Linked DNA regions of Homo sapiens: region 2 is linked to region 1. A link means that fine-mapping ties the variant in region 1 to the expression of a gene that starts in the linked region. Tissue or cell type: whole blood. Region 1 holds a variant in brackets; the other region holds the start of a gene. All regions are shown on one strand. Distances are from middle to middle.

Region 1 (8,000 bases):
GATTCCACCAGGGTGTATAGTGCTGTCTGTGGACACAGCAGACCAAGATAAGGAAACGGCCCAGCACCACCAGGCTTCCCTCGAGCTCCTTCCCCGCCCAGATGCCAGCAGCCACCAGTCTGTTCCCTCATAGCCCTGCCTGTTCCGACCACCCTCTCTGTGGAGCCACGGCCTGTGGTCTGCACTGGCCTGAGTCCCGGGCCTGTTGCCTGTGGGTAGGGTCCCGCCATCCAGTATTCACGCTGTAGCCAGGTCATGGGCATTTGAACTCTTCCCACTTCCTGGCAATTGTAAATAAGGCCACACAGGCCTGCGTGGGTAGGCGTTTCCTCTCCCCTGGGCACCTTCCCAGGAAGAAGGTTTTGGGTTTTAGTGGAGCTGGTCCAGGCGGCTGGTCCTGCCATGTGAAAATGGTCCAGGTGGGCTGGTCCTGCCTTGTGAAAAGGGCTACTTGAGTGCAGCCGCCGGCTTCTCTCTTCCCCGGCTCGACCTTCCACCAGCAGCCAGCTGGGTCCTGCCGGGGCGCTGGTCCTGTCTTGGCCCTGAGTCCTGCTCTCCGGGCAGGTTTATCCACCAGGTGAACCAGGCCACTGTCACCATCCAGCGCTGGTACCGGCACCAGGTGCAGCGGCGCGGAGCAGGAGCTGCCCGCCTGGAGCACTTGCTTCAGGCCAAGCGGGAGGTCAGTGTGGGCGTCTCAGTCACTCCATGCTCCCCCGGGGGGTCTGGCCCAGAATCCCAGGGGTTTGAGTTTCTGGGACAGGTGGAATCAAAGCCTAGGATTGCTCGTGGGCCCCGTCTCTGGGTGCAGCATCCTTCTTGACCCTGGGTCCCCGCGGACAGTCAGGGTGGTCCTCACTGGCGGTCCTCAGGGCCTGGGTGTCAGGAAACGCCTGCTGGGTCCATCCCAGGCTGGAGAGTCTCAGGAGGACGTTCTGTGGGGGCAGAGCTGTCTCCCCCACGCCAGAACTGTTGGCCACCTGCGACGTAGGGCTCATCCTCTGTAGAGCAGAGAAATGGCAGGTTCAAGGTCCTGGTGGGGTTTCACTTTCCCTGCTGGCCCTGAGATTCCACGAACTCTAGGGGACTCCAGGGCGTTGTGGGGAAACCTCTGGTCTGGGTCTGGATTCCGTCTTCCAGATGTAAACGCCACATGGCACCGGCTTCTTTGGCAGGAGCAGCGGCAGCGGTCAGGCGAGGGGACCCTCTTGGACCTGCACCAGCAGAAAGAGGCAGCCAGGAGGAAGGCCCGGGAGGAGAAGGCACGCCAAGCCAGGCGAGCAGCCATTCAGGTGCTGACCGCGCAGGGACCACTGAGCAGCACCGTGGCCCAGGCCTGACCGTGCGGGGCTGCTGCTGGGGCTCCCTGGGCCCCGGGACACTTAGCCTCAGGGCAGCTTGGCTGTGGAGCCTGGGGTCGTCCTCTCCCAGGGACAGTGCTCAGCGATGCTCCCACTGCAGGAGCTGCAACAGAAACGAGCCCTGAGAGCCCAGAAGGCGAGCACTGCCGAGCGTGGGCCACCTGAGAATCCCAGGGAGACCAGAGTGCCAGGAATGCGGCAGCCTGCTCAGGAGCTGTCCCCCACACCAGGCGGCACTGCCCACCAGGCCCTCAAGGCCAACAATACTGGTGAGAGTGGCTCCACGCCCGCCCTGCTCTGGGGGGTGGACTGCAGCCAGGAAGGAAGTGCAGCCCTTGTGGACCTCCTCTCGGCCTCCTGTGCTGCTGCCCATGTTGGCGGCCCCAGTCCTCGGAGTTAGGGGCCTTGGCCCCCAGCTGACCTGACGAGGGTGCCGAGACCTTGACAATCAAATGGTCCTGGACGTAGGGATCCCTACAGAGTAGAAGGCCCGGAAGGGAGGGGTGGCACTCATCCTCCACAGCTCCACACCCAGAAGGCCGTGGCTCCCCAGCGGCTCCTCTGCTTCTGGGGTCGCCTCCGCCTCCCCCATGCCTGGCTCCTTCCCGGGGGTGCCTCCAGAGTTGCTGCCCGCCCCGGGATGCTCCCTGTGGAATGGTGCTGTGTTCTGCTGTGCAGGTGGTGGCCTCCCTGCTGCAGGCCCCGGAGACCGCTGCCTGCCCACCTCCGACTCATCCCCAGAACCACAGCAGCCTCCAGAGGACAGGACGCAGGTCTGAGCACAGCTGTCCTTCACTCCATCATGGTTTTTGGCTTTAAGGGCCATGTCTGTGCCAGGGGTGTCCTGAGCTGAGCTTCTCCCAGCCCCTCCTCTGCTCTAGGGGCCACTTAAGCTCAGAGAGGCCACCCAGGAGGTGTCTTCTTGCTCTGATGCATGGTGCTGGCTGCCTCTTGGGGAGCCTTTGCTGGGGTGGATCCAGTTGGGTTTTTGCAGATGTCCTGGGGTGGGGGGCCTTGCATCCTCATCCACAAAAGAGGAGCTTCCGGCTCTGAGGGGTGACCTGACAGCCAAGGCTCCCAGGCTGCTCAATGGTGGGGCCAGGTGGCTGCACTCCTGTTTTCCTGGAGTGGGGCACTGGGAGGAGTCCCCTGGTGGCTGGAGCTGCTCTGGGTTTGAGCAGCTGCAGAGACCGGGTGGGAAGGTCTGAGCCCTGGCCTCACCTTCCTGGGGCTGAATGTCGGGACTGGGGAGCTCCCGCGGCGCCTTTGGGGCTCTGCGGTTGGCCTCCTATGTGGGGGCTGCTCTCAGCTACCAGCAGCCTTGCTGCATCTGTCTCCCTGCTCTTTTGCAGGACGTTCTTGCCCAGGATGCAGCTGGGGACAACCTGGAGATGATGGCCCCGAGCAGGGGGAGCGCCAAGTCCAGGGGGCCACTGGAGGAGCTGCTGCACACACTGCAGCTGCTGGAGAAGGAGCCGGACGTGCTGCCCCGCCCCAGGACCCATCACAGGGGCAGATACGCCTGGGCCAGCGAGGTGACCACGGTGTGCGCCCGCCCTGCACAGTCTGTCCACCCACGCCATTCACACAGAGCATGCGGTGGCTGTGGGGGTTGGGAAAATGGGGATGCCACAGGCTCCTCCTGGCTTTAGTCACAACCCTCCCTCCCAGAGCCCAGCCTCAGCTGCCACCTCTGCCTTTGGGGAACCCAAGTCCTCAGGCTGCCCTGACAGCCCCCGATGCTGGGCTCCTGTCCCACAGGAGGATGACGCCAGCTCTCTGACAGCTGACAACTTGGAGAAATTTGGAAAACTCAGTGCGTTCCCCGAACCTCCTGAGGATGGGACGCTGCTATCGGAGGCCAAGCTACAAAGCATCATGAGCTTCTTGGACGAGATGGAGAAGTCTGGGCAGGACCAGCTGGACTCCCAGCAGGAGGTGGCCCCTCACCAGCCCGCACCCGGCCCCCAGTGGGAGGAGGCCCCTCACGAGCCTGCACCTGGCCCTCGGGGGAGGAGGCCCCTCACCAGCCCGCACCTGGCCCCCAGGGGGAGGAGGTCTCTCGCCAGCCCCCACCCGGCCCCCAGCAGGAGGTGGTCCCTCACCATGTACCCACCTAGTTATGCAGCACCCCCCACGGGTCTCTCAGGGTGGAGGTGGCAGGGCCCGCATTCCCCATACTGCCCCCACCTACCCGCTGCCCCGAGCTGCCTCCACGAGCCCATATGTGTGGATAGTTCAGCCCTCTGGAGCCCTGCTGTCCTCTGGGTTGGTTTGTCCTGGGTGAACACTAGCGGCCAGGCTAAATGGAGCAGTGACGTGAACTTTATTGTCACAGGGCAGGAAGCTGGGCAGCATAGAACTTTTTAAATGGTTTGTTTTTTATTCCTGAGGCCACGGCCCCCATTTCCTGTACTGAGCAATGAAAACGACCTCTGCTGGGCCGCCTGCCACCTG[C/A]CCTCCGGCTTCCCACGGGCTCCCGTGTGCAGCAGCCCCTCTGTCCCCAGAGGGCAGGGCCGCAGGGGCATCGTGTCAGGTCCTTGGCTGCCCCCCGTCCTCTGCCGCTTCCGCCTGACGCTCGGCTGTGTCTGCAGGGGTGGGTGCCGGAGGCGGGGCCGGGGCCCCTGGAGCTGGGGTCCGAGGTGAGCACGTCTGTGATGCGGCTGAAGCTGGAGGTGGAGGAGAAGAAGCAGGCCATGCTGCTGCTGCAGAGAGCGCTGGTAACGCTGCTGGCACTGCTAATCCCGGGCCCTGCTAGCCTCCTACCTGCTGAGGCCAGGCCCACCGGTCCTAGCGCTTCCCTCCTCTGCCCACACCCTGCAGGCGCAGCAGCGAGACCTCACGGCCCGGCGGGTCAAGGAGACAGAGAAGGCGCTGAGCCGGCAGCTGCAGCGGCAGAGGGAGCACTACGAGGCCACCATCCAGCGGCACTTGGCCTTCATTGACCAGGTGAGCGGCCCGGGGAGCGCAGAGGCCCGGACCCAGCGCGTGGCTCATGGAGACTTCCAGAGCCAGGGGCTTCCCACTGCCAGGGAGCTTCTTCCTCTGTTGGGTGTCACACGGGTGTCCGCTGGACGCATTCCAAGCCTTTCCCATGCCATTCCCAGCCATGCATGCCCTGGAGAGGGCACTCCTGTCTTTATCCAGAGCCGCCCCGTGTGAGTGTAGTGGGGTGTCCTGCCGGCCCCTCAGCTCAGTCGCAGCCCCGGTTGGCTCCTGTTCTGAAGAGAAGAGACCTAGAGTTGGTCTGGGGTGTGTGAGAATAGGGGCCTCCAGGGCTGCTTGATAGTTGTCACAGGTGTGTCCTGACCTGGGGTCTGGCCTGGGGCCGGCAGTGAGGCTGGTGTGGTCCTGACACCCTTTGGCAGACAGTGAGCCTCCTCCAGGGCTGGGTGATGGCCTCGGCAGAGCTACCCTCATCCCAGGAAGACCCTGACATCACTGCAGGGGGTGGGCTGGGGCTTCTCTGACATTCGCCGGGTCCCCCAGCTGAGGACAGGACGGCGGATGCAGGCCTGGGCCCGTGTTTGCACACGTGCCCCCCCACTGGCCCCAGGGTCCATCCACAAACCTAGGAGGGGCAGCCCCAGGGGAGGGCTGCTGTTAGCCTCCCTCGGAGGCTGGGAGGGTCTCCTCCATCAGGGGTCCTGCTGGGCTGGGGCCTTGGTGTAGCACCTCACCTCCGGTCCCCAACACAGCTGATTGAGGACAAGAAGGTCCTGAGTGAAAAGTGCGAGGCTGTGGTGGCCGAGCTGAAGCAGGAGGACCAGAGATGCACCGAGCGTGTGGCCCAGGCACAGGCGCAGCACGAGCTGGTGAGGCTTTGCTCCCTACTGCACGGCGTCCCAAGCCCGGCTCACAGGCCAGGCTCAGCTGGCACAGCCCCCAGAACAGGACCGGACTTGGAGTCCTCATTCCTGTCTCGGTGTGTCAGGGCCACAGCGGTGGGTGGGGCTGTCTGGGGGAGCACCGTGGCACCGAGCTGGTCCACTCCTGCCTCTCTAGCTGCCAGGCTCTGGGGCGGGGCCGTGGGCCTGCTGTCACAGATGTGGACGCACAGTCCCTGCCCGGCCACAGCACGGTAGCCGTGGACCCAGGAGCCTCTGCCTGGTCTGCCCCACTGCCAGGTCCTTGGGCCATGGGACCTGCTCTCTCTACTGACCAGGTGTCGGTGGAGCATTGACTCCCCGCCCCTTCCCGCTGTGTGAGCTCCCTGGGGGCCTCAGCCTCCCTGGCTATGCTTCCCACCAGCTTGGGCAGTGATGGTCCCGAGCCCAGGTTCTGGAGTGGGGCTTGGCACTGGCATTTTAAAATCCCTGCACGTGACTGTGGCTGACAGCCGGGGTTGAGGACTGCCAGTCCCATGGAAGAATGCAGGCTCTGGGGCCGTCCCGACAGGCAGCAGCACCCCTCTCTGGGGCAAGGCCTCTGCAGGCTGATGGCTGCCCTCCCATGTCTCAGGCCACCAAGGTGTGTGGCAGGGTGGGCCTGGGCCTCCAGCCTGGCCCCGGGCGCTGGGGAGGGCAGCAGTGGCTCTGTCTCGGGGCAGCACACCCAACCATGAGTGCCGGCCTTGTGCTGGTGGACCTGGAAGCCCGGCCCTGACTGTGCCCACAGGGTGGCAAAGGGACGGGGGTGTCCTTCGTGTCGTTTCCTCCTGCCCTGTTCTGCTCGTAGGAGATTAAAAAACTCAAAGAATTAATGAGCGCCACCGAGAAAGCCCGCCGGGAGAAGTGGATCAGTGAGAAAACCAAGAAGATCAAGGAGGTCACTGTCCGAGGTGGGCCCTCCCCTCCCATGAGCCGGCCAGGTGTGGGGTGGGTGCTGCGGCCAGGGCTTCTTTTGAGAGAGCCATAACTTCAGGCATTCATGTAGTCCGAGACCTTCCTGGGCAGAGGTGAACACTCATGCCCCAACCACCCCCGTCACGGCCTCCGCTGCGGCTTCTGCCGTGACCCGGGGGGCAGGTGGGCTCCACACAGGAGCCTGGCCCAGCCCCCAGCATCTAGGCAGTTGCCTGAAACGAGGGGGCTCAGTGCCTCACTTCCTCAGGGTTGGGCTAGGGGAGATTGGGAGTTTGTGGACGACTGTGGCACGTGGGCCCTGCCACGGGAAGCAGAGTGAGCCACAGGAGGAGGCAGGGGCAGGCAGGCGGATGGGGCAGGAGGCTGGTGGGTGTTGTGGTCTGAAGGGGCCTCGGACCCTTGGGTGATGTGCAGGGCTCCCCGAGGCCTGGTCCTCTCGCTCTGGACACCTGCCAGGGTGCCTGGGAGCCGTCAGTGGTAGCACCAGGAGTGTCAGGAGCCCTGAGCCCCACAGGCTGGGAGAGGCGCCGTGGCCCTGTGGGGGTCTCTTCCCCACCTCGTGGGCGTCAAGACTCAGCTGTGCTTCGGGTTGGATCCAAGGAGGCCCTGGGTGGGCGGGGTCCCCTCTGGGCCTGAGACAGGCTGGTCTTGTGCCAGGGTTGGACTTCCCGGGCCCACCCTAGCTGGACGTGGCCCTAGCTGGTGCCCCGCCCCCAGGTCTGGAGCCCGAGATCCAGAAGCTGATTGCAAGGCACAAGCAGGAAGTGCGGAGGCTCAAGAGCCTGCACGAGGCGGAGCTGCTGCAGTCGGATGAGCGGGCCTCGCAGCGCTGCCTGCGCCAGGCCGAGGAGCTGCGGGAGCAGCTGGAGCGGGAGAAGGAGGCGCTGGGCCAGCAGGAGCGCGAACGTGCTCGGCAGCGGTGGGTGGTGGCCCCAGGCCGGTGGGGCCAGGACCCTCAGGGCGGGGAGTCGGAATCCTCGAAGGCTGGAGTGGAGTTCCCATGTAGAGGTGGGCGAGGGTCTTAGTGCAGCATGCAGGGAGGACGCAGGGCCCTTGGCCCTGGAGTGGCCCTTGGGGGCCCAGCCTCAGCCGGGCCAGTGTCCTCGGGCTTGTGTCTGCAGTTCATGCCCGCCGAGGTCTGCAGGTTCTGCATGGGTGCACGGGTGTTTTCCCAGGGTCAGGGCTGGGAACCCCCACCAGACATCCACTCTTTCACAACTGGCCCCAGAGCAGCAACCCGTGGATAGGCGGCCTCGAGGCCCCTCCAGCTCTGACCTTGGGGCCCAGGGACGGTCTCTCTCATTCACTCCCTTGGCCTGGGGTCTGAGGGGTGACTGCTGCTCTTGCGTCCTGAGCCCTGGGGGCTGGGGACGTGCCCAGTGGTGGTCAGGATCTGCGGGCCACAGGGGGCAGTGGCAGCCCCTCCTGCACTGTCTGCGCCACCAGGACAGCCTGGAAGCCACCCTCTCCTATCCACCCTGTTGCCTGTCGTGGCTGGTCCTCCCCAGATGCAGCTTGGCTGGTCCCCCAGTCTCTCCTCGAAGGTGGGGTCAGGACGAGGCCCTGGCGCGAGCTTGCTCAGGTCACGGAGCCAGGCACCTGGCACCCTCAGGCCGGAGGCAGGGGAGGTGGATAAGGCCCCACGAGGCACCTGCCTCCCGCCCTCCATGCCCGTGGGGCAATGCTGAACAGGGTGAGGCCGGCACACGGGCTGAGGGAAAAGGGGGCCTGGACGCGGCTCCACAGCCACTTCCCAAAGTGCCACGAGGGCCTGGAGCTCAGGGAATTGCTGCGCTTGGCTGATGGGCAAGTTCCTCGTGGCCTTGCCTGCCCC
Region 2 (8,000 bases), 27 kb before region 1:
GTTTCTTTTTTTTTTTTTTTTTTTTTTTTTGAGACAGAGTCTCACTCTGTCACCCAGGCTGGAGTGCAGTGGCGCAATCTGGGCTCAGTGCAACCTCTGCCTCCCGGGTTCAAGCGATTCCCCTGCCTCAGCCTCCCGAGTAGCTGGGATTGATTACAGGCTCATGCCACCATGCCCGGCTAATGTTTTGTATTTTGGTAGAGATTGGGTTTCACCATGTTAGCCAGGATGGTCTCGATCTCCTGACCTTGTGATCCACCCTCCTCGGCCTCCCAAAGCACTGGGATTACAAACATGAGCCACAGCGCCCAGCCTTTTTCAGTTTCTTAAGGTGGAAGCTTAGATTATTTATCATGTCCTTTATTTTCTAATGTGAGCCTTGTAATGCTATAAACATTCCTGTGAACACTGCTTTGGCTGCATCCTATGAATTTTGGTACATTTAAATTGTTATTCAGCTCAAAATATTTTCAAATTTATCTTGAGACTTCCGTTTTGTCCAATGGGTTATTTTAAAGCATATTGTGTTATGATTTAATTCTGATATAGTCAGAGAACATATTTTATATGATTTCTGTTATATTGTTTAAAGATTTCAAGCCTAGGCAACATAGCAAGACCCCGTTTCTACAAAAAAAAAAAAAAAAAAAATTTAAATTAGCCAGGCATGGTCGCAGCTACCCAGGTGGCTGAGGCGGGAGGATTGCTTGAACTCCAGAGGTCAAGGCTGCAGTGAGCCATGATTGTGCCACTGCACTCTAGCTCTGTCACCTAGTGCAGTGGTGCAATCACAGCTCACTGCAGTCTCAACCTCCTGAGTTCAAGCAGTCCTAAGCAATCCTCATGCCTCAGTCACCACACATGGCCTTTTTTTTCTTTGGTAGAGATGGAGCTCTTGCTATGTTGCCCACGCTGGTCTCCAACTCCTGGCCTCATGCAATTCTCCCACCTCAATCTCCCAAAGTATTAGGATGACAGGCATGAGCTGCTGTGCCTGGCCTCACACTTTTGTTAAGGATTTCAAACTTTTGTTAAAGTTTGTTTTATGGCCAAGAATATAGTTTATCTTGGTGGATGTTCCATGTACACTTGGTCTAGAAAACTAGAGATCAATATCCTTCTGGAATATAGATGCAAAATTCCTCAAGAAAACAACAAAATGAATCCAGTAATATATAAAAAGTGTAATACATCACTATAAGTGGAATATATCCCAGGAATGCAAGGCTGTTTCAACCTATGAAAATCAGTGTAATTCAATCCATCATATTAACAGTAAAGAAAAATCACATGATCATTTTATGCAGAAAAAACAAGAAACAAATTCAACATTCACTCATGACCCAAAAACCCTCCCAAATTTGACAAATTAGAAATGTAAGAGATCTTTTGGGTGGCAAGGGGTTTCTGCAAAAACCCCTCAGCTGACATCATACTTAATGCTGAAGGACTGAATGCTTTTCCCCTATGATTGGAAAGAAGGCCATGGTGTGCATGCTAACCATTTCTGTTCAGCATTACACTGAAGCCCTGGCCAGTTCGATAAAGCAAGAAAAAACTAGAAAGCCAGACACATTAGAAAGGAAGAAATAAAACATACTATTCACAGAAAACAGGATTGTAGAAAATCCCGTGAAATCTACCAAAAACTTCCTAAGACTAAGAAGTGAGTTTAGCAAAGACACAGGCTCCAGGGTAAATATACTAACATCAGTTACACTTTTGTAATAGCAATAAACAATTGGAAATTAAACCATAAAAAACTACCATCTGTAATGGCACTCCAAAAATGAAATGATTAGGTATAAATTAGAAAGATATATGTAGGATGTGTATGCTGAAAACTTCAAAGTACTGATGAAAGAAATCAATGAAGATCTAAATAAGTGGAGAGATATACCATGTTCATAAATTCTGGTGTCAATTCTTCCAGGTTACAGGTCTACAGATTTAATGTAATCCCCATCAAAATCACAGCTGGATATTTTTTAAGATAGTGACAAGCTGAAACTCAAATTTATAGGAAAAGTCAAAAGAATTTGGATAGCCTAGGTAATTTGGAGAAAGAAGAACAAAGGACTCAAAACCTGATTTCAGGATTGACTCTAGGCCAGGTGCAGTGGCTCATGCCTGTAATCCCAGCACTTTGGGAGGTGAAGGTGGGAGAATTGCTTGAGCCTAGGAATTTGAGACTAGCCTGGGCAACATGTGAGACCCCATCTCTGCAACAACAACAACAACAAAAACACTAATCAAGACAATGTGGTAGGCCGGGCGCGGTGGCTCACGCCTGTAATCCCAGCACTTTGGGAGGCCAAGGCGGGCGGATCACGAGGTCAGGAGATCGAGACCATCCTGGCTAACACGGTGAAACCCCGTCTCTACTGAAAATACAAAAAAATTAGCCAGGCGTGGTGGCGGGCACCTGTAGTCCCAGCTACTCGGGAGGCTGAGGCAGAAGAATGGCGTGAACCCGGGAGGCGGAGCTTGCAGTGAGCTGAGATCGCGCCACTATGCTCCAGCCTGGGCAAAAATGCGAGACTCTGTTTCAAAAAAATAATAATAAATAAATAAATAAATAAGTAAACAAATAAAACCAATCCCTGACAATACCAAGAGCTGAGGAGGATGGGGAGCAACTGCAACACCTGTGGCACTGGTGGGAGCGTAGAGCTGTACAACTTCTTTGGAAAATAGCTTAGTAGGCCGATGTGGTGGCCCACGCCTGTAATCCCAGCACTTTGGGAGACCGAGGTGGGTGGATCACCTGAAGTCAGCAGTTCAAGACCAGCCTGGCCAATATGACAAAACCCTGTCTCTACTAAAAATACAAAAATTAGCCTGGCATGGTGACATGTGCCTGTAATACCAGCTACTCGGGAGGCTGAGGCAGGAGAATTGCTTGAGCCCAGGAAGTGGAGTTTGCAGTGAGCCAAGATCATGCCATTGCACTCCAGCCTGGGCGACAGAGGGAGACTCCATCTCGGAAAAAAAAGGAAAAAAAAGAAAAAGAAAATAGCTTGGCGGTTTCCTTTTTTTTTTCTTTTTCTTTTTTTTGAGATGGAGTCTTGCTCTGTCGCTCAGGCTGGAGTGCAGTGGTGATCTCCGCTCACCGCAATCTCTGCCTCCTGGGGTCAAGCGATTCTCCTGACTCAGCCTCCTGAGTAGCTGGGATTATAGGCAGACGCCACCAGGCACGGGTAATTTTTTTGTATTTTTACTAGAGACGGGGTTTTGCCATGTTGGCCAGGGTGATCTCGAACTCCTGACCTCAGGTGATCCGCCCACCTCAGTGTCCCAAAGTTCTGGAATTACAGGTGGGACCCACTGCGCCCGGCCGGCAGTTTCTTATAAACAATCATTTGATCCAGCAACCCCACTCCTGGGTATTTACACAAGAGAAATGAAAAGTTGTGTCCACACAGAAGCCGATGAGTGAATGTTTATGGCAGCGTCATTCATAATTGCCAAGCACCAGGAACAATCTCTGCGTCCTTCATTTGATGAATAAAACCATCAATAAATAAAACCATCTGAACCGGTGGTTCACACCGGTTACAGGATACCACTCAGCAATAAAGAGGAACCAGCATGAATCTCAAAATGCGAAGTGGTAGAAGCCAGACCCACAGGCGCGCTGCGCGACATCCCTTTTGTGTGACATTCTGGAAAAGGCTGCCTCTAGGGATGGAGAACAGAGAGAACTGAGCAGCCGCCACCAGCAGTCAGCAGGTACGGGATCCGGAGGGAGAATGTTCTGTAACTAAAGTTACACAACTCCACTGCACACCAAAAAATGTGGATTTTACTGAAACCAAACTTTTTATTTTACAGAGCACTGGACTTTTTAAAAAGCGGGGGCAGGGGAGACCAGTGTGCTGTGACTTTTAGGGGAAGGATGGCTTCCCTGGAGAGGACCTGGGCGGAATCCCCAGGGCTCCCGGAGAGAGGGGGAGTCACAGAGCGGCTACGCACGGGGCGCAGCGTTAAAACTTTGGAGAAGGAAAAAAAACAACAAAGCAGCGCGAAGGGAAGGAGGTCAGGGAGGTTAGCAAGGCGCCCACACGCCCTCGCAGTCGTACTGAGTAACGAGGGGAGTCGCGCACGTGGGTGGGGACAGAGCGGCCTAGGACACTGGGGGAGCCCCGGGCCGCGGGAGTGCGGCGGCCTGGGGGTGTCGGGGAGCCGAGCCGAGGCCGCGTGCTCCTCGCGCCCTCCCTGGTGTCTCCTCCCCAGGCCCTGCGTGCCCCGCCCACACCTGCCTTGCCCCGCCCACATCTGCCTCGCCCTACTCGCCCATCACACCCCCACCTCACGCCCCGCCCACAACCGCTGGGGCCCCGCCCCTGCCCGGCCAGCTCCTCCCGCCGCCCTCGGTCCCCCGCCCCCTATATGACCCGCCCCTTTCCAGCCGCGTCCAATCGGCCGCTCTCTGTAGTCGCGTCCCTCAGCCATCCGCCGCTCCTCCCACGCTTGAACTTCCCGAAGGACAGCCGAGCGGCCCAATGAGCTCCCGGGACGGCCTGAGCGGGAGCGTGAAGGGCCAATCCGGAGTCGGCGCGCGCAGGAAAGGCGGGCCGGCGTGACGGGCTGGGGAGGTGGTGCCAGGCTGGTTGCTAGCTGCCGCCGCTGCTCACCCCGGCCGTCCGGCCGCTTCATTGTCACCGGGCCTCGGGGCAGTGTTGGGGGTGGCGGGGCGCCAGGTCGCCGACCCGAGGTTTGGGCGCGACTGGTTCCGCATCCCCTCCCCGCCGGCCGAATCTGCAGGCCCCGCGCGCCAGGCAGGCTTCGCGGCTGCGCCCCCGGCCCGCGCAGGTGAGGGGGGCCCGGGCAAGGGAGGGGGTTGCAGGGCGCACGGAGGTTGGAGGGGTCCGGAGCCCGCGCAGGTGGGAGGCCCTGGTCCAGTGATGAAGTGATGGGGATCCGGGGCACGCACAGGTGAGTGGGGGGATCTGGTGCCCGCGCAATTGAAGGCGGGATCCGGGGGAAGTGAGGGGGATCCAGGGTGCGCACAGGTGAGGGAGGTCCGGGGCCCGCGCAGGTGAAGACAGGCTCGTGCCTGAGGGTGTGGGTCCCCACCTCCATCCCCTCCACCCTCTCCACCTCCCTCCACTCCCCTCCGGTCCCCAGGACAACATGGAGTCCAGTCCCGGCATCTCTGGCCCGGCTGCCTTAAGCCCTGGGGAAAATGGGGAGATGGGAGCTGCCCTGAGGACAAGTGGAGGGCTCTGCTCTGCGCGTGGGCTCTGGCCTCTCTGTCCAGGGTCAGGGTCAGGGTCAGGGTCAGCCCACCCTGGGAACCAGGTCCTGGCGCTGGTCATCAGTCCCCGCCCCTTCAGGTCCTGGGAGGGACACAGTTTTATCCAAGATGTAGTGGCCTCCCAGGCCTCCCTTCTTCTGGCTTGGAGGTTTCCATGGAGAGGCCCCGTTCGCCATCCCAGAGCCGCTTGCAAGTGTGGCTGGGAGAGCAGAGTCCTGGGCTCCAAGGGCTTGCATGGGTCCAGCCAGGGGTGGACAGTGCCCTGCAGGAGGAGGGTGTTAAGTTTCTTCCGCACAGCCGGAAGTGCATAACTGAGGACTGGGACCTGGTCAGTGGCAGGGTCAGCCTCTAGGGAGTAGGGGTATCCATCGCTCCGTGGAAGGGACCTTGGGGGACCTGCTGTGGGGTGCCGGGCTGAAGGAAGCCCAGGGTGACCTTGGGCGATAGGCTGGGTGCCTGCTGGCCTACTGGAGGCCACCGTGGCAGGGAGGTAATTCTCGAGGTTGGTCCCTGGCGCCAGCTTCTCCCGTTCATCTACGGGTTCAGCTGAGTGCCTTTCCCTGCAGGTGCTGGGGTTGCTCAGGAGCCACACAATTCATAAACCAACTGTGTGCGGCCACAGGAAGGGAGTCCGAGCCGGATGGGGAGTGAAGAGTGATGGGTGCTCAAGGAAGGCCTCTGAGTGCAGGGAGGGAGTGTCCTGAGACCTAGAGGCAGGGGACTGGCCGGGGCCAAGCTGGCTGAGTTTGAGGAGAACCAGGGAGGCTGTGTTGGCTAAAGCCACAACAAAGGGGCACAGCAGGGGAGCTGGCGAGGTCACAGAGAGTACAGGGCCAGATCTTGCAGGAGTTGGATGTGTAGACTTTATTCTCTGTGCCTAGGAAGCTGTTGCAGGGTTTTTGGCAGGGGCACATGCACGAGCTGAGACCCGTTCAGAAAGATCAGAAAGACTCGTTCAGAAAGAGGTGCCATGTGGGGACGGGCTGGGGGCCGGCAGGGTTTGCTCTGAGAAGTTCCAAAGTAAGGAAGCCAGCATCCCCAAGCTAATCCCCTCGATCGATCGTCAGAACCCCCGTCCCCTGCTGGAATAACACATTACCCAGGGAGTGTTTGCCCGGTGCAGCCTTGAGGCCTTGAGACCAGCATCTTGTCTGGACCTCACAAAACCACTCCCGCGTTTTTTTTTTTTTTTTTTTTTTGAGATGGAGTCTCGCTATGTTGCCCAGGCTGGAGTGCAGTGTCACGATCTTGGCTCACTGTAAACTCCGCCTACCAGGTTCAAGTAATTCCCCTGCTTCAGCCTCCCAAGTAGTTGGGATTACAGGCGCTCGCCACCACGCCCGGCTAATTTTTTGAAGTTTTTAGTAGAGGTGGGGTTTCACTGTGTTGCTTAGGCTGGTCTTGAACTCCTGAGCTCAGGCAATCTGCCTGCCTTGGTCTCCCAAAGTGCTGGGATTACAGGAGTGAGCCACTGTGCCCGGCCAACACGCAACCCCTTTTTAAAATGTGTATTTTTACTTAGGGGCCGGGTACGGTGGCTCATGCCTGTAATCCCAGCACTTTGGGAGGCCGAGGCAGGCGAATCACCTGAGGTCAGGAGTTCGAGACCAGCCTGGCCAACATGGCAAAACCCCGTTTCTACTTCTACTAAAAATACAAAAATTAGCCAGGCGTGGTGGCGGGCACCTGTAATCCCAGCTACTCAGGAGGCTGAGGCAGGAGAATCGCTTGAACCCGGGAGGCAGAGGTGGCAATGAGCCGAGATCGCGCCACTGCACTCCAGCCTGGGTGACAAGAACGAGACTCTGTTTCAAAAACATAATAAAATAAAAAATAAATCAAATGTCCCTTTTACAGAAGAAAACAGTGGGGCTCGGGGCAGTGACTTTCTCAGAATCACGGTGTGGGGTAGATGGCAGAACCTGGCTCACATCGACAATGGCCTGTGGCCCAGGCTCCCTCTGGGGTGCTGCTGGCTTATTCCCACCCACGGGCCTTGCCCTCGCCACCCACCTGTCCATCATCCAGGGCCCTCCTGCCCTGGCATACACTGACATTGGGCTCAGAACAGCTCCCTCATGTTCCTGTCGAGGAGCCTGCCACCAGCCAGAGGGGTGCATAGGTTGTGACAGGCCTTCCCAGGAAGTTTGGTGGCCAGTGGACCCAGCTGAGGCTGGGCTGGAGATGGTGGGTGCAGGGGACTGTAGTTCCCCCACGGCATCTCATTGCAGCTCTTGCTTCCCCGCTCAGGACCTGCCTTGTCCACCATGAAAGGCACCCGGGCCATCGGCAGCGTCCCGGAGCGCAGCCCAGCAGGTGTGGACCTGAGTCTGACAGGTCTCCCTCCGCCTGTGTCCCGGCGTCCTGGCAGTGCCGCCACCACCAAGCCCATCGTCCGCTCTGTCTCCGTGGTCACAGGCAGCGAGCAGAAGAGGAAGGTGCTGGTGAGTACTGTGGCCTAGGAGTCCGGGCCCCTGCCTCCTGGAGGGCTGTTGTTCAGTTGGCATCTGACCCCTGGGTCCAGCTCCACAGGTGAACAAGTGCCTCACATCTGGACATGCTGGATCCTCGTGGCTGTTCCAGGAGGCAGGTAGGACTTGAGTCTTACAGGCGTGGGTGCTGAATCACTAGAAAGTCAAGCCAGAGCTTGGATTCTTTCAGCAACAGCCCCAGGCCTCCTGTGCCACCGCCCTTTGGATTTGTTTGAATCCTCAGGAAATGGGGTTGGCTGGGCTCGGTG

What was found. PIP is the estimated chance that this variant, and not a neighbour inherited with it, causes the effect.
Region 2: it holds the start of CEP131, and the variant in region 1 is fine-mapped to the expression of CEP131 in whole blood (TOPMed, PIP above 0.99). The same link has a PIP of 0.9 or more in aorta, blood mononuclear cells, esophagus muscle, lung, sigmoid colon and subcutaneous fat.

Annotation. Positions count from the first base shown.
Region 1 is chr17:81,193,011-81,201,010 of GRCh38, reverse strand. It overlaps CEP131 (centrosomal protein 131), which reads left to right. Exons shown (of 26, transcript NM_014984.4): 8 at 565-682; 9 at 1,176-1,292; 10 at 1,462-1,630; 11 at 2,040-2,134; 12 at 2,714-2,896; 13 at 3,123-3,299; 14 at 3,956-4,081; 15 at 4,185-4,310; 16 at 5,060-5,176; 17 at 6,039-6,141; 18 at 6,884-7,085. Among named protein-coding and RNA genes, the nearest start is that of CEP131, 26 kb to the left of the region's middle. RefSeq lists an enhancer at 7,375-8,000. The variant C/A (reference allele first, on the strand shown) is at 3,819.
Region 2 is chr17:81,219,584-81,227,583 of GRCh38, reverse strand. It overlaps CEP131 (centrosomal protein 131), which reads left to right and starts at 4,619. Exons shown (of 26, transcript NM_014984.4): 1 at 4,619-4,815; 2 at 7,511-7,704. The coding sequence starts at 7,528. RefSeq lists silencers at 4,027-4,396, 4,557-4,886 and enhancers at 4,248-4,917, 4,918-5,587, 5,588-6,258.